Linked DNA regions of Homo sapiens: regions 1, 2 and 3 are each linked to region 4. The links come from fine-mapping of genetic effects on gene expression. A gene starts in region 4. Each other region holds a variant in brackets. All regions are shown on one strand. Distances are between the middles of the regions.

Region 1 (5,126 bases), 27 kb before region 4:
AACCACAAAAAGATACAACTTCTGATTTCAAAATGACCACTTTCGGCTGGGATAGTGGCTCACGCTTGTAATCCCAAAACTTTGAGAGGCCGAGGCAGGTGGACCGCCTGAGGTCAGAAGTTCCAGACTAGGCTGACCAATATGGTGAAACCTCATTTCTACTAAAAATACAAAAATTAGCCAGGCCTGTGATGGCATGTGCCTGTAGTCCCAGCTACTCGGGAGGCTGAGACAGGAGAATTGCTTGAACCCGGGAGGCAGAGGTTGCAGTGAGCCGAGATCGCGCCACTACACTCCAGCCTGGGTGACAGAGCGAGACTCCGTCTCCAAAAAAAAAAAAAAAAAAAAAATGACCCCTTTCTGCCTCCCCAGTAACTTTCATTCCCACCCCCACCCCCGAATATACTCCTTGGGCTCACAAAAAAAGCTAAGATGGCATGATTAGCATCTAATGTTCCTAAGCCTTAAGCTGCTGACTAAATTCTACAAAACAAAAGCAAACATACAACCTAATGGGGTAGAAGGAAAGTAAAACCTCAAACTCAGATGCATCCAAAGAGGCAGAAAAGAATGATTTCCAACAATGGATGTCAGCCTTTAATGGCAACTAAAAATATTTCTGTAAAAACCAAAACATGCAAGAATGGTCTACCACTCAGATATTCTCTGATGGGAAGATGCCATGAGTGAGCACAGAAGGGCCCAATGAGTACCAGTACAGGCAAATATAGATACGTTAGAAAACAATTATCCAGACCGGGTGCGTTGGCTCATGACTGTAATCCCAGCACTTTGGGAGGCCAAGGCAAATGGATCGCGAGGTCAGGAGTTCAAGACCAGCCTGGCCAACAAGGTGAAACCCCGTCTCTACTAAAAATACAAAAATTAGCTGGGCATGGTGGCACGTGCCTATAATCCCAGCTACTTGGGAGACTGAAGCAGGTGAATTGCTTGAACCTGGAAGGCGGAGGTTACAGTGAGCCGAGATCGTGCCACTGCACTCCAGCCTGGGCGACAGAACAAGACTGTCTCAGGAAAAAAAATAAAAAATTATTCCAACTATGCTCTTAGTGTGGTGGGCTCAAAGTTAAGGCTGAAGGAAGGAATCACTTCTCATCTATAATAAGAAAGTCCAACAGAATGACAGGATATGTATTGGAAAGATACTAAAGCATGATTGTCCTTGATTTGTTTGGCAGAGAGGACTGAGCATATTGACAAAGTTAATTTTCCAGATGACTAAAGTTGATGAAAACCTCACAGGCACTAAAAACTTTTTTTTATTTGTATAATAACCACTTTATATTGTATTTGTTTAAAAGGTTACTCTAGAAGCCTGAGTCGTCTAGCTATTTTTGTCAGAAGGTCACTGCCATAAACATCAGCTTCTCTATTATGATGTGCATTCTTTAGGTAATGATGTCTAAACTAAAGAGCTCCTCTGCACCATCTCTAATCCTGTACTTGCAATTTTTGTGAATAGTTTCACGCTTGCCTAATCTCCTCTCTCTTTCAAACTCTCACCTTCTAATCTGTTCTATACTAGAATTATCTCTAACCATGTGTAAATAGGACCTGGATAAATGGTTCTCCCCGTAAGTAAAATGCATTGATTTTGCAATAATTATTTTACACTCTCAGCAGCCCTTCCCCCTTTTTACTAATCTGTGGCTATGGACCATCAGCACAATTCTATGTACTACCTTTGAGGAAGGCACGACAAAGAGAAAGCCAGGGAAAAAATTTAAAAAACAAAAAAAGGCAATCAAAAAGAATAATTGCAGGGAGGAGATCCCAAACTCTTCCACAGACACCCAAAGGTCATTACAGGTTTGTAAGAGGTTTCTACCTAAGGACAGTGTAGACTCTAGGCTGAAATACTCATGTGGCCTACTTGGGATGTTGGGTTGGGCCACAAACAAGACCTTTTTCCCCTCTAGTTTCAGGCCTAGATGAGAAGAAAACAGGTTTCCTTGATTGTTGCCCAGGCCCACACCCTGAGTTAGAGTAACCTGGACAATAGAAAGATGAATGGAAAAGAAAAGTCACTTCTCACTGAGGCCTAGAGCAGCACTGAGCTATGTCACACATTCCAAATCTCTTATCTCCTGCGTGTGATCTTGAACCTATTGAAGCTTCCCAAACAGAAGGCAATTCAAAGCCTAACTTACTATACAAATTGTGTGGGAGAGAAAAATAGCATAAACTAATCCAAAGACGAAAAAAGATGCAAAAGAGATCATCCAAAAAGGGCACTGCTATAAAAGCTAGAGCTTCTCAAGTTTGCTCTTATTCCACTGAAGACTTCATCCACAGGTTCTATGGCTCAGTTGTGTCAC[C/T]GGCCTTGACTTCATTAGTGCTCCCCCTAGAGACAGGAGTGTGCCACTAATTAAGCCTTTTTTTTTTTTTTTTTTTTTTTTTTTTGTGACAGAGTCTTGCTCTGTCCCCCAGGCTGGAGTGCAGTGGCGCGATCTTGGCCTGCAACCTCCACCTCCCAGGTTCAAGCAATTCTCTGCCTCAGCCTCCTGAGTAGCTGGGATTGCAGGCGCCCGCCACCACGCCCAGCTAATTTTTGTATTTTCAGTAGAGACAGGGTTTCACCTTCTTGGCCAGGCTGGTCTTGAACTCCTGACCTCGTGATCCACCTGCCTCAGCTTCCCAAAGTGCTGGGATTACAGCCGTGAGCAGGCGTGAGCCACTGCACCCGGCCAAGACATTTTTTAAAATGTAAAAGACTGAGACTCTTCAGGTGGAAACAACACAGGCAGAAGTGTAACTCCTTAAAGTGTAAGATGAAATTGAGACTCTAGTCAGTCTACAGGAAGGAAGACACAAAAAACGGTCCTCAGATTGTTAGGATAAGTTGAAAGGATCAACCCCAGAAACCAAAAGTAGAACAAATCAATGAGAAATGGATGAAGGCACCTGTCTTCAGAAGCACTACACACTTAAGGAATTGTCTTAGTCCATCTTGTGTTGCTATAATAGAATACCACAGACTATAATTTATTTGAATAGAAATCTATTTGGCTTGTGGTTCTGTAGACTGGGAAGTCGAAGTGCATAGCACTGGCACCTGGCAATGGCCTTCGTGCTGCATCATCCCATGGCAGAAGGGCAAGTGAGGGTGAGAGTAAAGAAGCAAAAGGGGACCTGAACTCACTTTAACAAAGCCACTCTCATGATAACCCACTACTGTGATAACATTAATCCATTCATGAAGGCAGAGTCCTTATGACCAAATCACCTCTTATTAGGCCCCACCTCCCAAAACTGTCACAAAACAAAAATGACTTATAAATATTTTCCTCAGGAATCTTGGGGAACATCCAATTCTAGTCACTGGTGACTATAGTGTTAAAAATTAAGTTTTCTTCATTCTAAATGAATGAAAAAGAACAATGGTCTACAGAAAACCCAGGGAAATCAGAGTCAAACACTGGTATTATTTAATGTCTAATCCAGCCCTACCCAAGCAAAAGTATCTGGGGAAATGTGAAATAGAATGACTTTCCCATGAGACACACACATTCAAGCTTTCCACCACCTGAATAAAATCATACTCAAGACCATCCCGTTCTCATAGTCTGATTCAATGCTTACCAAACAACCATATCATCATCATCTTGGGTTCCTAGATACTCACACCAGGAGTGTGAATATGGGTATTCCTGTCATTAGTAAGCTACACCCTCCACTACTAAGCAAAACTGAAATTTTATCTTTGATGTGATCAGTTAGTGTGAATCAGCTTCCAGCATTACATAATTCCAGATAAAAATTCATAGGCCGGGGGTGGTGGCTCACGCCTGTAATCCCAGCACTTTGGGAGGCTGAGGCGGGCAGATCACCTGAGGTCGGGAGTTTGAGACCAGCCTGGCCAGCAGGGTGAAACCCTGTCTCTACTAAAAATATAAAAATTAGCCAGATGTGATGGCAGGTGCCTGTAATCCCAGCTACTTGGGAAGCTTAGGCAGGAGAATCACTTGAACCCGGGAGGCAGAGGTTGCAGTGAACTGAGATCACGCCATTGCACTCCAACCTGGGCAACAGAGCGAGACTCCATCTCAAAAAAAAAAAAAAAAAAATTTCATAAGGCTCTAGTTTCTGAATCTGAAGCTATAAAAAGAATATCAACATTTTTAACCCAATACAGGTATATAAGCAACAGAAGACTGCCTTTTTAGGACAAAGAAAATCACTTTAAATGGTAATTAGCAAAAGGAACTCATCACTCTCAATTAGACGGGCTAAAAAATACAGAGAGTCCAAGAAGTATATAAAAGCATCACCCCTAGAGAACCATACCTATTTATGAGAGAGGAAAAGAGAGCTATCTTGTAAAACTGGCTATTGCTATAACAAATGTTGACAGGGATGTGGAAAAGCAGAAACCTTCATACACTGCTGGTGGGAATATAAGATGGTGCAGTCATTTTGGAAAACAGTTTAGCAGTTTCTTAAAAGTTAAACATAAATTTACTATATAACCTAGCAAATCCATTCCTAGGTCTATCCAAAATATAGACCATTCCTAGGTCTATATCCACACAAAGACTTGCATGCAGATATTTTATGGGAGCATTATTTCTAATAGCCATAAAGTAGAAACAACCCAAACGTCCATCAGCTGATGAACAGATATAGACGAAATGTGGTACATCTATACACTGGAATATGATTTGGCAATAAAAAGGAATGAAATACTGATACATGCTGCAACATGGATGAACCTCAAGAATATTATGCTAAGTAAAAGAAGCTAGACACAAAAGACCACATGTTGTATGATTCCATTTATAAGAAATGTCCAAAAATGGCAAACTATGGAGATAGTAAGTAGACTAGTTGCTGCCTGAGGCTAAAGTTGGGAACAGGGATTAACTGTAAATGGGCATAAGAGATCTTACTGCAATGATAAAAATGTTCTAAAACTATACCACGTGATGGTGGCATAACTCAGTAACCTTACGAAAATCACCGAATCATACACTTAAACATGGGTAAATGTTATATGTAGATTATGCCTCAATAAAGTTAATAAAAAACAAATAGGCATCTCCTTCTCTATAAAGTCCAAGGAAGTAACTCACATGTGTGCCGATGTTGACCACCAAATGTTTTTC
Region 2 (5,150 bases), 93 kb before region 4:
TTATTAAAATCAGTTAGAAAAACCATTAACTACAAAAATGAGCAAAACCAACAATTTATAAATGAAATAAAAACAGCTAATAACCTAGGGTATTCAACTTCAATAATTAACACAAAATAACAGACTAATTTTCTCCAAAAGGATTAAGAGAGAAAGGGAAAGCTTGCATCTGCTAATTATTTGGGTACAATCATGCAATCAAATGTGTAAGAACTACAGCTTACCAACACTGCTAATGAGGGGGGGAGCTGCTAAAATTTTTCTAAAAGGTGATTCGGTAGTATGTATCAATAAGCCCCCAAACAGGGCATACACTTTGATCATCAATCCCACTTCAAGAATTTATTGTAAGAGAGGGATTTAAAAAGATGTACAGAATATATAAGCTTGGTCATTCCAACATGCATACAGTAGTAAAAAATTTGAAACCATAGAGATTCACTAAATATAACCATTAAAAGTAATGATTTACCAAACCTATATTTTTGTTTTGGAAAGATGTTCATAGACAATGTTAGTGAAAAAAGCAAGTATGGTATGATTCTGCTTTAGTTGAGCATGTATGCATTTATATCTACAAACATTTGTTCATATACATTAAGAATAGTCGAGAAAGATATAACAAATGATGTTATCCCTGCATAATAAGATTACTGGTGAATTTCATTTTATTCTTCATCATTTTCCTAGTATCTAACTTTTTTCTACAACATAAATAACGTGTGTGTATAAAAATTCCAAATTTATACAGAACAAATCAGTAAGAAAGAAAACAATCCAACAGAAAAATGGGCAAAAGATATGAATAGGCAATCAGCAGAAGACAGTATAAATGACCAATAAATGTATCAAAAGATGTTCAACCTCATTAACAACCAAAGGAATGCAAATCAAAGGGAGATATAATTGCCCACCCATCCATATGGTAACAATCAGTATGTCTGATTGCTTCCAATGTTGGTGAGTTCATGGGTCACAATTATTTGCACATATTGCTGTTAAGAATGTACATTTGTACAGTCAGTTTGAAAGATAATTTGTACATACAAGAACATGTGTCATGAATGTTCATTACACTATTGTTTAATAGCAAAAAACTGGGAACAGAAAAATGGCTAAGTAATATAAGGCAAGGAATTCTAAACAACAGTTGAATGAGCTAGATCTCTGAGTAACACCCTGGGCAGAATCTAAGAGCTGACCTTCACATTCACTATCTTTAAAACTAAAAAGCTACTCCAGCTACAACTGACTTGAACAACTCAGAGGATTTTACAAAGTTACCTCTGGACATTTCAAACGACCCCTTAACTCTGGTGGCTCACCCTCAAGCGCCTGAGATAATGACATTGCATGAATGAGGCCATGAGGAAAACCCCACCTATCTTTCAGTCTTGTTTTTGAGAAGCACGAACACATACAATCACAGTGAGCGCACACTCTCAGTAGCAGTGGTGCTGAGTGTAAAGAATTGAGAGACATGTGATAAGCTTTAGTTGCAGTAATGTTCATCACAACAATCAACAATCAACTGGTCTCCTAGAGCTCCTGAGAAAGGACACTAGAGAAGCCTCAATATAACTTCTTAGGTCATCTGGATCCAGAGCAGTGGCTTTCGAATGTTACTGACAGTGGACACAGTAAGAAACACATTTTGCACTGACGTCCAATATAAACACCTACCCCGCCACACTGTGAAACACAAGTGTCACAGAATATTTAAACTTATTACATACCATTTCTTTTCCTATTCTATTCCATTTTATTTAAAATGCTGTTCATGACTCACTAAAGTTGATTTTACAACCCACAATCTGGAAAACACAGTGACCCAAAAAAAAGCAGGGGTAAAACCTCTCACCATTCTATTTCCCAACGTCACCATCACCACTACCACTAAATTCACCTGCTACCTTGTTTTTACTAGGGCTGTCCCTCCCACTTGAAATACCTTTCTCATTCTTCCCCCATTTAAATCCAATTAATTTTTCCAAACCTACTTAAAATCTCAACTCAATCACAGCCCTCTCCTAGACACACTGTCTTCCAATGTTCTCTTACTCTTACAGCAATAATCATTCAATAGATTCATCTGTCAATTAATACTTTGTGATAACTATTTTGTCCAGGATTGTTCAAATTTTACACTTGAACTCCCTTTTCATAATCTTACTGAGGGCAGGGATTATGCTTACACTGATTTATAACCATTACTGTATCTTAATGCTTCATACATGGCAGAAATATGAATTTTACTTCCTTGTAAGAGCCTCAGCTTATCAGTTCCCTCTAGGAGTTCACAAATGTCACCCATAGTAAGCTACAAGAGTATTTTATTTTGGCAGAGATCTAAAGTCAAATTGAGAAAGGTATTCTATAAATCACCATAGCATCTCAAATAATTGCTGAATAAAACAATCCAATGAAAGGAGGAACAAACTCAAAGCTCTCAAAATCCCCAGAGAACTTCCCTAGGAAAAGAACTTACCTGTATAGTGAGACCTGGGGCCATGAGGTTTAAGTCTTTCTGCAGAGCTTGCTTCAGGTTTTCATCTATTTGATCTGTTTTTTAAGCCAAGAACAACAGATCTCATGATAGTCAATTTTTTTTACATTGTATTCATAATGAAACAAAACTAATCATTATTAGACCTAAAGTTTCCACAGTACTATTCTTTTACAGAGCTTAAACTGCCTTTTCTTCCCTTTTGTGTGGGAAAAAAATTGCAAGGAATTATCTAATAAAGAAATTAAGGAA[C/T]GAAGATGACAAGCAGATAGTCTGTTTATCCAATAAGTTTACCCACTAAATGTATTACTTAACTATGGATAAGCTTTTTTACTGGGTAACTTATTAGACTTATTTACTGGATAAACAACTACTGGGTAAAATATGTTGATCTAATAAATGGAGAATCTGGATCTCTAGTATCTTAATTCAGGGCTCTTACTCAATATGTATCCTCATTCTCAAAGAAAAACAAATTTCTATGTTCAGTAAATCTTTACTCAAATTCCCAAATAACTAAACTTCATTTCCATGGATCTCAGCCTCACTGTTATTTTGGATTTAAAGAGAGAGAGAGAGAGAGACAGAGAGAGAAGCTCATAGAAAAGTATTTGAAATATACACAGCATGAACACTTGGGCTTGTAACTATGCACTTTCTATTCACCTCAATGGTACTTTCGCTATTTAAATGACTGGTGGTGAGACAAAGCAGGACCCATCAGTTTCCTCACATGCCACTTCAGTGGTTGACAATCACCAAAGAGGACTCAATTGGTAGATTTTAAATTGATTACTCTTGCTTATTCCTTCATCTTAGAAATTCACTAAAAATTTCAGGAGGGAAAAGTGAGCTACCAACAGCAACAACTCATTCCCTGGTCAGAACTTCCACTATCATAAATGAAAAGTAAGTTGTACAGAAGTGAGTTAAGAAAGCAGGGCTGATACTGCAATCCTTAGAAAGGCCTTTTGTAAACTCGTCCTTGGTTGGCACCTAGGAACTTGGATTTGTAGAAGGGTCCCACTATCCCCAGAGCTAATACAATTGACTTGCTGTGAACTGTTTATACAATGTGGCTTATGCCAAACACCTGCATTCCTTCCAGGAGTCTGGAATTTTTATGTGGTAGGCAGAGGGTGCCTACATAATCAGCCCCCAGTGAAAACCCTGGGCAATGAGTCTCCAATGAGCTTCCCTAGTAGACAACATTTCACATGTGTTGTCACAGCTTGTTGCTGTGGGAATTAGGCACATGTTTGACTCTTGGAAGCCTGCACCTGCTTTCCTCTGCATTTTGCTGGTGTGCCTTTGCCTCTCGCTGATTTTGCTTTGTACCCTTTGGCTGTAATAAATCTTAGCTGTGAACACAACTATGTGCTGAGTCCTGTCAGTCTCCTACCAAATCATCAAAAATGGGAGCCTCAAGACACAGGTTTCTAAATTTTTCAAATTATCTATTAAAACATCAACAAAGCTAATTTTCACTAAGTTATTACAGTAAAAACAGAATACAGTCTGAGTAGTTTTTCCAATCTCTAACAAGTTATATAAAAAATTTTAAACTTAAGATAAAAAATATTTTAAAGACAATTGCTCTATGATAAATTCAGAAGAAATGCTTAAATAGCACTAAGGTTTACCAATATAACCTCAATAAGTAAGCTGAACAAAGATTTCCAATTGGCTATTTACATACATAAGAATTAAGACACTTACCAAACAATTCAATGTAAACTTCCTGAAGTGTGTGGGCACTGCAGAACTGGTTCAGCTCATGGTGGATTTTATTGAAGATTAAGGTCTTGTCATAATCTGCAGTATAGTTCCTCACGATATCAAACACTGAAGGAGAGGTACAACCCATGTTTGTTTTACCCAACAATGACACAGGTACCTTCAAATTCAGCCAGGGTAAAAGTCAGGGTGATATATTACACATGAGGAAAAGTGCCAACAAAATAGTGAAACCAAAAACCACAACTAACAAATCTTGATGTGTTGCTTGTGCTCAATTTTCCAAATACCCTTGCATTTGTAATACTAATGCCAAACACCTGCTGGTTAGCCCATCAAACAGGGGCTAACTTTAAAGTCCACACTAAAGTATCCATTATTTTGGAGGTAATAAGGAACTATCAAAGGTTTCAAGCAAGGGCATGACAGTCAGATTTACGCTTTGGCCAGCAGTGTGAAGATGAACTGAGAAGCATAAAGATCAGAGGCAGGGAAAGCATAAGGCAATTACTGCAAAAGTTTAGCTAAGAGGTAAAGAGAGACTAGGCAAACTGAGGAACAGTAGAAATAAAAGAAGAAAGCAGTTGCAAAAGACCGTTTTTAAAAAGGCAATTTTTTAAAGTTGTTAAAACATTAACTGAGCTGGGCTTTATATCAGGTAATTTACATAAATTAGCACTGAATTCTCCTAAATTTGCATATTAGGAAACTAAGAAACAGAGAATTTTAGAAATGCCCAAAAGGTACATACTAGACCACGTCAGAACCTGTTCTTTATCTACAAAAACATGCTGCTTTCTACTTCTGTCTTCAGATCCAAGAATTTGCTCCACTGGCCTTCCCATGTGGGATATTAGATGCAACTGGATTTCAAATCCGACTGGGCGCGGTGGCTCATGCCTGTAAT
Region 3 (5,150 bases), 57 kb before region 4:
CTGAAAGAGTGGCCGGGTGCAGTGGCTCACGCCTGTAATCCCAACACTTCAGGAGGCCGAGGTAGGCAGATCGCCTGAGGTCGGTCAGGAGTGGCAAAACCCCGTCTCTACTAAAGATACAAAAAATTAGCTAGGCATGGTGGTGGGCACCTATAATCCCAGCTACTTGGGAGGCTGTGGCAGGGAGAATCACTTGAACCCAGGAGGCGGAGGTTGCAGTGAGCTGAGATTGTGCCATTGCACTTCAGCCTGGGCAACAGAGCAAGACTGTCTAAAAAAAAAAAAAACTGGAAGAGCCAGTGCCCTTACACAAAGGCTGAAATGTAGCCAAAGCCTACCAAGAGTTCTGCCCAGGCCTTTCCCAGGCCTAAAAGCAAAATAACAAAGGAATTCTTAACAGGACCCGTTCAGAATTAAATAAGTTTTATTGGGGGTCTGAAGAAACCCCAGGCCTCCACAAACAAGTTTATTGGGGGTCTGAAGGAACTCCTTAAACCTCTGTGATTTAATAGGAGACAAGATAAGGGTAATCACCCCAGCACCTGGACCCATTTAGAGTAAGTAAATTTACTGAGGCTCCAGAGGAATGTCTTCAAGACTCAGACCTCAGCTACAGATTAAAAGAAGTTAATCACTTATGTCTTTAGATGAATGCAAACTTACACATAGACATATAGCTTAGAAGATAAATAAACTACGGAAAAACTTTGTAATTTTGAGTTGGTCTGGCGGTAATTTCCAGGCCTTCTACCTGTAACTGGTTACAGAAATAAAAACTCCCATCTCTCCCAATTCATCTGCATCTCGTTATTGGGCCGCGAGAGTAAGCAGCCTGACCCTCAGTTTGGTCTGGGAACAGGAGCAGAAAACTGGCACCAAAGAAAAAGTCTTGCAAAGTTCAAAACAACAAATGTTTCATTTCTATCCTGTTCACCTTGCAAAGCAATGATAAGAGTTGGGAGAAGGACAAAACCAAAACAAAATGTGCGGCCTCCCAAGGAATTCCAAGTATGCATAAAAATTGCAGGGCACGCAATCCCTCTAGATTTCACATACTCTAGGGATATTATAATTAATTTTCTTACAACTCCATCTAGAACACATTGAGAGGCTGGTTTCCGAGGATCCAGAGAAATTCCTGTCTCTGAAAGAAGTTCTTGAGAACCAGTATTTATTCCAGTTTCACGCTCAATACGAGACTGTAGTGAATGAAGACTTTCATCAGGTGGTAACAGAAAAGAAATTATCTTTGCAGAAGTCATATTTAGGATGTGTACTATCTGTATAAATAAGAAAAAAAGGTAAAGTTATTGATTATTTGTTACATAAAAGATTCGCTGCCAGATACTAAAAGGTGAATATGGGCAAAAGGCATTATTTCTACATTAAACAAGGCTCACTCATTCTCCAAAGTGAGATCTCCTTTTATAATTATAAAATGACATTCTGAAAACTGAACAATTTCCTTTTCTACAATAGATGTTAGTTCCAACAATAAAATTTCAAAGTTAAGAAATTTTCAAAATTAAGAAAAATCCCAATTTGAAAGAACAAGTTATTTATTTATTTATTTATTTATTTATTTTTTTTTTTTTTGAGACGGAGTCTCGCTCTGTCGCCCAGGCTGGAGTGCAGTGGCGGGATCTCGGCTCACTGCAAGCTCCGCCTCCCGGGTTCACGCCATTCTCCTGCCTCAGCCTCCCAAGTAGCTGGGACTACAGGCGCCCGCCACTACGCCCGGCTAATTTTTTGTATTTTTAGTAGAGACGGGGTTTCACCGTTTTAGCCGGGATGGTCTCGATCTCCTGACCTCGTGATCCGCCCGCCTCGGCCTCCCAAAGTGCTGGGATTACAGGCGTGAGCCACCGCGCCCGGCCTAAGTTATTTATTTTGAAAAAAACATTATCATAGACCGAAAAGGAAACATTCCAATTCATGAAGTGCCTAACAGAAGACAACCACAGGCATAAACCACTTTCACATAACATCCCCAATAATTAGATCTTTTAATCTCCATTTTAAACAGAGAAAGAAACCAGAGTTCTAAGTTAAATAACTTGTTAGGGATCACACAGCTAATAACTGGTAGAGCTTGGATCTTAACTCTTTTTGTGTCTGGCTACTTCATGCTGCCTTAAGAAATCATCTGATAGAAGAACTAGGTCTCTCTTTAAACAGGAAAAAGCATTGTTATGCGTGGTGAGTTACCTTTTTATAAGACAACCTAATCCCAGAGCAGCAACCTGCTTAAGGGCCCCAAATCAAGTAAGAACCGTTTTATCACTCTCACCTAAAGCCCCAGTAAAAGTAGCCTGATACATGCCAAGTGAGTGTGAGGCTGAGTCAGGTGGGGCTCTGTCCCCACCTGTCAGCGCGGACAGCCACAGAGTTGGACTTCAGTCTTTTGAAAAGAACATGATTTTAAATTCTCTTCCTTCCAGTATCCTTAGAAAAGCCATACGAAATTAATGCCTACATTCTCCATGCCTTACATTGACTAGTATATGCAAATGATTAAAATTCTCTCTGCTGAAAATCCTTACTACAAAGGTAAGGCATTAATCCAAGTCCACTATTATTTTTTTCCCTTTAAAACACAAATCTGAATTGATGTTTTCAAAGACACAAAACTATAGACAACAGTACAATAAGCCCCCTCCCAACCCTGTGAATGCCTCACCTAGTTTCAACCATCATTTACATAGAGCCTATCTTGTTTCATCTATCATA[A/G]CCCCCTCTCCTGATTTATTGCTTTATCTTTTACATATTTTATTTTGTGACAATTTAATTTGACATATAAAAATGTTATATATTTGAGTTATACAACTTGATGTTTTGATATACGTTGTGAAATTATCACATTTCAGCTAATTAATATATCTGTCACCTCTTCATAGTTGTCATTTTTGTACCTTTTTTTTCTTTTGCTGCCGTAATTTTTGGACCTTTTGATAAACATCTCTACATACACCCCCGCACCCGCATCCCTGCAGCCCCTGGCAACTATGATGCTATGGTCTGCTTCTATTAAATTTAACTATTATAGATTCCACATGTAAGTGAGATCACGCAGTATTTCTCTTTCTGTGACTTGCTTATTTTACTTAACATGTCCTCCAGGTTCATCCACATTGTCCTAAATGGCAGAATTTCCTTCTTTTTCTTAAGGTTGAATACTATTCCACTGTGTATATATACCACTTTTTCCCTATCCATTCATCTGTCAAAGGACATTTAGGCTATTTCCAGATCTTGACTATTGTGAATAATGCTGCAATGAACATGGGAGTGCAAATATCTCTTCACAAGCCTGCTTTAAAATCCTTTGGATATATACCAAGAAATGACATTGTTGAATCTTACAGTTCTATTTTTTTTTTTTTTCTTTTGAGACAGAGTCTTGCTGTGTCACGCAGGCTGATGTGCAGTGGCATGATCTCTCAGCTCACTACAACTTCCACCTCCTGAATTCAAGCAATTATCCTGCCTCAGCCTACGGAGTAGCTGGGATTACAGATGTGCACCACCATGCCCAGCTAATTTTTGTAATTTTAGTTGAGATGGGGTTTCTGCATGTTGCCCAGTCTGGTCTCGAACTCCTGGCCTCATGTGATCCACCTGTCTCAACCTCCCAAAGTGCTGGGATTACAGGCATGAGCCACCATGCCCGGCCAGTAGTTCTATTTTTAATTTTGAGGAACCTTTGTACTGTTTCCCACAATAGCTGTAATAATTTACATTCCCACCAACAGTGTACAAGGGATTTCTTTTCTCCCACATCCTCACTAACGCTTATCTTTTTTCTTTTGGATAATAGCCATCCCAACAGGTGGGGGGTGATATCTTAGTGTGGTTTTGATTTGCATCGCCCTGATGCTAAGAGTTGTTGAGCACCTTTTCATATGTTTGTTGACCATCTGAATTTCTTCTTTTGAGAAGTGTCTAATTCAGGTCCTTTGCACATTTTTAAATTGGGTTATTTACATTTTTGGTATTGAGTTGCATGAGTTTCTTATAAATTTAGGATATTAATTTCTTATTGGATGTATGGTATGCAAATATCTTTTCCCAATCCATGGGTTGGGTTGCTTTTTCGTTTTGTTGATTATTTTTTCTACTGTACACTTTTTAGTTTGAAGGCCCACTATTATTTCCACTTACAAATCCTAACACAGATGCCCAAATAAGTGGTGCTACAGAAATACTAAACTGAGGCTGGGCGTGGTGGCTCACGCCTGTAATCCCAGCACTTTGGGATTACAAGACAAGTAGATCACTTAAGGTCAGGAGTTCAAGACCAGCCTGGCCAACATGGTGAAACCTTGTCTCTACTAAAAACACAAAAATTAGCTGGGCTTGGTGGCACAACGCCTATAATCCCAGCTACTCAGAAGGCTGAGGCAGGAGAATCGCCTGAACCTGGGAGATCAAGGCTGCAGTGAGCCAAGATCGCGCCACTGCACTCCAGGCGACAGAGTGAGACTTTGTCTCAAAAAAAAAAAAAAAGAAAGAAGAAAAAGAAAAAAAAAGAAAAAAGAAAGGGATACTGAATATTCCCAACACAGAGAAATTATGTTTTAGCTGATGGATATGCTAATTACCCTAATCTGATCACTACACAGTGCATGTATTGAAACATCACTATTTACCCCATTAATTTGTATAATTATTTGTCAATTTAAAAAATTAGGCTGGGCGCGGTGGCTCACACCTGTAATCCCAGCCCTTTGGGAGGCCAAGACAGGTAGATCACTTGAGGACAGGAGTTTGAGAACATCCTGGCCAACATGGCAAAACCCTGTCTCTACTAAAAACACACAAAAAATTAGTTGGCCATGATGGCGCACACCTGTAATTCCAACTACGCGGGAGGCTGAGGCACGAGAGAATCACTTGAGTCTGGGAGGTGAAAGTTGCAGTGAGTGGAGATTGCACCATGGTACTCTAGCCTGGGTGATAGAACAAGACTCTTATCTCAAAAAAAAAAAAAAAAATTAAAAGCGTATTAACAATTTTGTTTGTTTGTTTTTGAGACAGAGTCTCTCTCTGTCACCCAGGCTGGAGTGCAGTGGTGCGATCTTGGTTCAATGCAGCCTCCACCTCCCAGGTTCAAGCAACTCTTCTGCCTCAGCCTCCCGTGTAGCTGGGAC
Region 4 (5,150 bases):
AGAAAAAAGCTTGTAGAATAAGGATATAAAGAAAATATTTTTGTACAGCTGTACAATGTGTTTTATGTCTTAGCTGTGTTATAACAAGAGTCAAAAAGTGTAAAAAAACTTAAAGTTTATAAAGTAAAAGTTACAGTAAACTAAGGTTTACTGTTGAAAATAATATTTTAATAAATTTAATATAGGTGAAGTGTACAGTATTCATAAAGTCTACAATACTGTAAAGTAATACATTCACTCACCTCTTACTAACTCACTCAGAGAAACTTTCAGTTCTGCAAACTCCATTCATGATAAGTGTCCTACACAGGTTGTGCCCTTTTTTTTTTTCCTGTATACAGTATTTTCTTTTTTTCTTTTTCTTTTTTTTTTTTTTTGAGACAGTCTCGCTCTGTCGCCCAGGCTGGAGTGCAGTGGTGCGATCTCGGCTCACTGCAACCTCTGCCTCCCAGGCTCAAGCCATTCTCCTGCCTCAACCTCTTGAGTAGCTGGGATTACAGGCGCCCGCTACCACACCCGGCTAATTTTTGTATGTTTAGTAGACACAGGGTTTCACCATGTTGGCCAGGCTGGTCTTGAACTTCTGACCTCAGGTGATCCACCCACCTCGGCCTCCCAAAGTGTTGGGATTACAGGCATAAGCCACCACACCCGGCCAGGTGTTTTCACTGTACCCTTTCTATATTTAAATACAAAAATGCTTACCATTGTGTTACAATTGCCTACAGTATTCAGTACAGTAACTTGACGTACAGCTATACCATTTAGCCTAGGTGTACAGGAAGCCATACCATCTAGGTCTCTGGAAGTACACTCAAAGATGTTCGCACAATGACGAAATCGCCTACCAACTCATTTCTCAGAACATAACCCTGCTGTTAAGCAATGGATTACTCTTATTTCCCAAGGCTCAATCCTAACATTCTCGGGAAGCCTTCTTGACTCCTATCATTAAGCCAAATACCCCTCTTATGCACTCTCCCAGATTCACGAATATTTTCTTCCCAAAAGTTACCACTATTGCAATTTTTTTTTTTTTTTTTTTGAGACAGGGTTTCAATCTGTCACCCAGCCTGGAGATCAGCAGCACGATCACAGCTCACTGCAGCATCGACCTCCCCAGGCTCAGGTGGTCCACCTGCTTCAGCCTCCCAATTAGCTGGGACCACCACGCCCGGCTAATTTTTTTTTTTTTCTGTATTTTTTGTAGAAACGGGGCCTTGCTATATTGCCCAGGCTGGTCTTGAATTCCTGGACTCAAGTGATTCTCTTGCCTTGGCCTCCGGAGTCGCTGGGATTATAGGCGTGAGCCACTGCGCCTGGCCCTATCACTATGGTAACTTTACATTTATCTGAATTCCTTTTTTTTTAGACGGAGTCTCACTCTGTTACCTAGGCTGGAGTGCAGAGGTGCAGTGTCGGCTCACTGTGCAACCTCCGCCTCCGGGTTCAAGCGATTCTCCTGCCTCAGCCTCCCAAGTAGCTGGGATTACAGGCACGCGCCACCACGCCTGGCTAATTTTTTTTTTTTGTATTAGTAGAGACGGGGTGTCACCACGTTGGCCAGGCTGGTCTCGAACTCCTGACCGCAAGTGATCCGCCCGCCTCAGCCTCCCAAAGTGCTAGGATTACAGGCGTGAGCCACCGCGCCCGGCCATTATTTGTATTGTTTTTTGTTTGTTTTGTTTTGTTTTGTTTTGTTTTGAGAGTCTCGTTCTGTCGCCCAGGCTGGAGTGCAGTGGCGCGATCTCGGCTCACAGCAACCTCCGCCTCCCGGGTTCAAGCGATTCTCCTGCCTCAGCCACCGCGCCCGGCCCATTATCTGGATTCTTTAGTACCTGTTCCTCTAGACTCTACGCTCCATTAAAGCAGGAACTCCATCTGTTGCAACACCTAGCACAGCGTCCGGCACACTGCAGTTCTTCAATAAATACTTGCTGCATGAAGCCCTCTCTTCACCACCACCCCCACCCCTCCTCCTCGCAAAAAAAAAAAAAAAAAAAAAATGCCCCAGGGAAGGGTCCCTATCTACTCTGTCCACCACTGCCCAGGGCCCATCAGTGGGCCCAATGGCTATTTGGCGAGTAAATAAATGGGGTCAGGAGAAACGAAGGGGAAAGGATGTGTCAGAGGCCAGGACTGCCCCCTAAGATGGAGGAGGCCTAACTCTGGGAGCTTCCGCCTCTCCGAACGAGCGTCGCCAAGAGAAACCCCCTCAGAAGCGAAAAGGGCCAGGAAAAGAGGTCAGCCCCGGCCAGGCAAAGACATCACCTAAGCTCCCCAGCAGCCCCGTGTCTCTCCGCCTTTTCCTTCTCCCTTCCCGTCATGGGAAAGACTCCCGCCCGTGTCGTCACCTACACACACGAAAGAGACACAGGGAGAGAGGCTTCCATTCACGGTCACTCACAGGCGCAGCGGTTTCTGTGCCATCTGTCCGAATAGTATGGGTTGCGACTGCCACCTAAAATTGGGAATGCGAATCCGCGCTCCCCGGAAAAATGCGACCGCGCAACAATCAGACGTCAGCGCCCTCCAGCCAATAACGGTTCACTTACTTACGGAGACCGCCGAGGGACAGAAGCCTCTCTCAGGTGTTTGCGCCTCAAGGAAGAATCAAGAGGGAAAGGGAGGAACGAAGGGAGAAAGAGAAAGTGACCGAAAGGATTCCAACTATGATTTTTTAAATTAAATTTCAGAGCACTTGAAGCGAATGAATGGCTAGGAAGTACAGAGCACAATGTCGGGTTCTAACCTAACCTAACCTAACCTAACCTAACCTAACCATATCGGTCTAGTGGGCAAGACAGACCCCCTCTATCCACGTTTTTTGTAAGTTTTTAACCTATCAAAAAGTTAAGAGGCCGGGCGTGGACGCTCACGCCTATAATCCCAGCACTTTGGAAGGCTGAGGCGGGCGGATCACTTGAGGTCGGGCGTTCAAGACCAGCCTGGGCAACATGGTGAAACCCCGTCTCTTCTAAAAATACAAAAATTAGCCGGGCATGGTGGAGAATTGCTTCAACCAGGGAGGCGGGGGTTGCAGTGAGTCAAGATCGCGCCATTGCACTCCAGCCTGGACAACAAGAGCGAAACTCCGTCTCAAATTAAAAAAAAAAAAGTTAAAAGAATAATGGCTATTACCTTGATTCAGTAAGTCTCAGCATGTTGGCAAATTTGCTTGTGTTCTCTTTCTCTCAAAGTGCCCAAGCCCTTCCATTCTCACTCAATCATTTGAAAGTAAAGTACAGGCCGGGCGCAGTGGCTCACGCCTGTAATCCCAGCACTTTGGGAGATCCAGACCATCCTGGCTAACACGGTGAAACCCCCTCTCTACTAAAAATACAAAAAATTAGCCGGGCGTGGTGGCACGCACCTGCAGTCCCAGTTACTCGGGAGGCTGAGGCAGGGGAATCGCTTGAACCCAGGAGGAGGAAGTTGCAGTGAGCCGAGATCGCGCCACTTCACTCCAGCCTGGGCGACAGAGCGAGACTCCGTGTCAAAAAATAAAATAAAATAAAGTGCGGACAACAGGAATACATCTCCATTTATCTCCTAAGATTAGGATATCCTCCTACATAACCGTAATACTATTAACACAGCTAAGAAAATTAACATTAATTATTCAATAATATTACCTAATATACATCCATATTTAAAGTTCTCCATATTTCCCTACAAACTGATTTTATATTTGGGGCTTGTTTTGATTCAGATGCAATCAAGTTTCACACTTGCATTTGGTTCTGTCTCTATTTTAATCTACAAAAGCCCTCCTACCTATTTGGTTTTAGTTTTTGTAATATTGACTTTTTTGAAGGGTTCAGGCCAAGTGGTAGGAAACAAGTGTGTAAGGAAATGGAAACAAGAGAGAGTTCCTGACGACTGCGGGGAAAGGAAGACTCATCAAGGGCATCTAAATAATTCAAAATTAATAAAACATAAGATTAAAGAAGAACTACAGGCCAGGCACAGTGGCTCATGCCTGTAATCCCAGCACTTTGGGAGGCTGAGGCGGGAGGTTCACTTGAGAACAGGAGTTCAAGGCCAACCTGGGCAACATAGCCAGACCTCGTCTCTACTACAAATTTAAAAAGAAAAAAAAAAAAGTTAGCTGGGCATGGTGGCCGTATGCCTGTACTCCCAGGTACTCCAGAGGCTGAGGTGGGGAGATCACTTGAGCCCAGGAGATGGAGGCTTCAGCGAGCTATTACCTTGCCACTGCACTCCAGCCTGGGTGACACAGCAAGCCCTGTCTCAATAACCAAACAAAACTACAAAGTTCTGGCTTTTCCCACAGCCTACAAGCCTTCTTTTTTGTTTGTTTCTTGCCTCATAACTGGTGGCTCTGCTTTGCTGGCACATAAGCATGCATTTTTTCCTACTCTTTGGATAATACAGCACTGCCCAGGAGTAGCACTCAAGACTGAATCTTGAAGAAGAGTAGAAGTTTGCCAAACATGAGCAGGTAATAATTCCCAGAAGAGGATACAAAAGTAAGACATAAAAACTCATCGTATTGAAAAATCAAAAGACTCCACGAAAAAGACTGTTAGAAATAATAAACGAATTCAGTAAAAGTTTCAGGATACCAAATCAACATACAAAAATCAGTAGCATTTATATGCACCAACAGTAAACAATCTGAAAAAGAAATCAAAAAAGCAATCTCATTTACAACAGCTACAAAGAATATAAACTACGTAGGAATCAATTTAACTAAAGAAATGAAAGATCTATACAAGGAAAACTATACAATACTGATGAAAGAGGACACACACACAAAAAGGAAAGATATTCCACGCTTATGGATTAGAAGAATTAGGCGGGCAGATCACGAGGTCAGGAGATCGAGACCTTCCTGGCTAACACGGTGAAACCCCGTCTCTCCTAAAAATACAAAAAAATTAGCCAGGCGTGGTAGCGGGCGCCTGTAGTCCCAGGTACTCGGAAGGCTGAGGCAGCAGAATGGCATGAACCCGCGAGGCAGAGCTTGCAGTGAGCGGAGATCCAGCCACTGCACTCCAGCCTCTAGCCTGGGCAACAGAGCGAGACTCCGTCTCAAAAAAAAAAAAAAGAAAGAAAGAAAAAAGACAACACTACCTAAAGCAATTTACAGATTCAGTCCAATCCCCATCAAAATACAAATGGCA

Direction of the effects. Positions count from the first base shown, and alleles are read on the strand shown. Sizes are in standard deviations (SD) of each study's normalised expression.
In carriers of allele C in region 1, the expression in hippocampus of the gene that starts at base 2,475 in region 4 tends to be lower than with T alone (moderate effect, 0.74 SD a copy in GTEx).
With allele C in place of T in region 2, the expression in monocytes of the gene that starts at base 2,475 in region 4 is lower (large effect, 1.0 SD a copy in BLUEPRINT).
For the expression in Th1/17 cells of the gene that starts at base 2,475 in region 4, allele A in region 3 goes with a lower level than allele G (moderate effect, 0.67 SD a copy in Schmiedel 2018).

Evidence for each region. PIP is the estimated chance that this variant, and not a neighbour inherited with it, causes the effect. A credible set is the group of variants that fine-mapping cannot tell apart.
Region 1: its variant is the best candidate, but not a certain one, in a credible set for the expression of CWF19L1 in hippocampus (GTEx, PIP 0.61).
Region 2: its variant is the best candidate, but not a certain one, in a credible set for the expression of CWF19L1 in monocytes (BLUEPRINT, PIP 0.72).
Region 3: its variant is the best candidate, but not a certain one, in a credible set for the expression of CWF19L1 in Th1/17 cells (Schmiedel 2018, PIP 0.81).

What each region holds. Positions count from the first base shown.
Region 1 is chr10:100,238,605-100,243,730 of GRCh38, forward strand. CWF19L1 (CWF19 like cell cycle control factor 1) reads right to left here. Exons shown (of 14, transcript NM_018294.6): 10 at 5,094-5,126. Among named protein-coding and RNA genes, the nearest start is that of SNORA12, 3.9 kb to the left of the region's middle. The variant C/T (reference allele first, on the strand shown) is at 2,340.
Region 2 is chr10:100,171,720-100,176,869 of GRCh38, forward strand. It overlaps ERLIN1 (ER lipid raft associated 1), which reads right to left. Exons shown (of 11, transcript NM_006459.4): 5 at 4,226-4,351; 6 at 2,489-2,562. Among named protein-coding and RNA genes, the nearest start is that of ERLIN1, 12 kb to the right of the region's middle. RefSeq lists an enhancer at 3,437-3,506. The variant C/T (reference allele first, on the strand shown) is at 2,759.
Region 3 is chr10:100,208,510-100,213,659 of GRCh38, forward strand. It overlaps CHUK (component of inhibitor of nuclear factor kappa B kinase complex), which reads right to left. Exons shown (of 21, transcript NM_001278.5): 10 at 1,086-1,280. Among named protein-coding and RNA genes, the nearest start is that of CHUK, 19 kb to the right of the region's middle. The variant A/G (reference allele first, on the strand shown) is at 2,731.
Region 4 is chr10:100,265,164-100,270,313 of GRCh38, forward strand. CWF19L1 (CWF19 like cell cycle control factor 1) reads right to left here and starts at 2,475. Exons shown (of 14, transcript NM_018294.6): 1 at 2,408-2,475. The coding sequence starts at 2,430. RefSeq lists an enhancer at 206-455.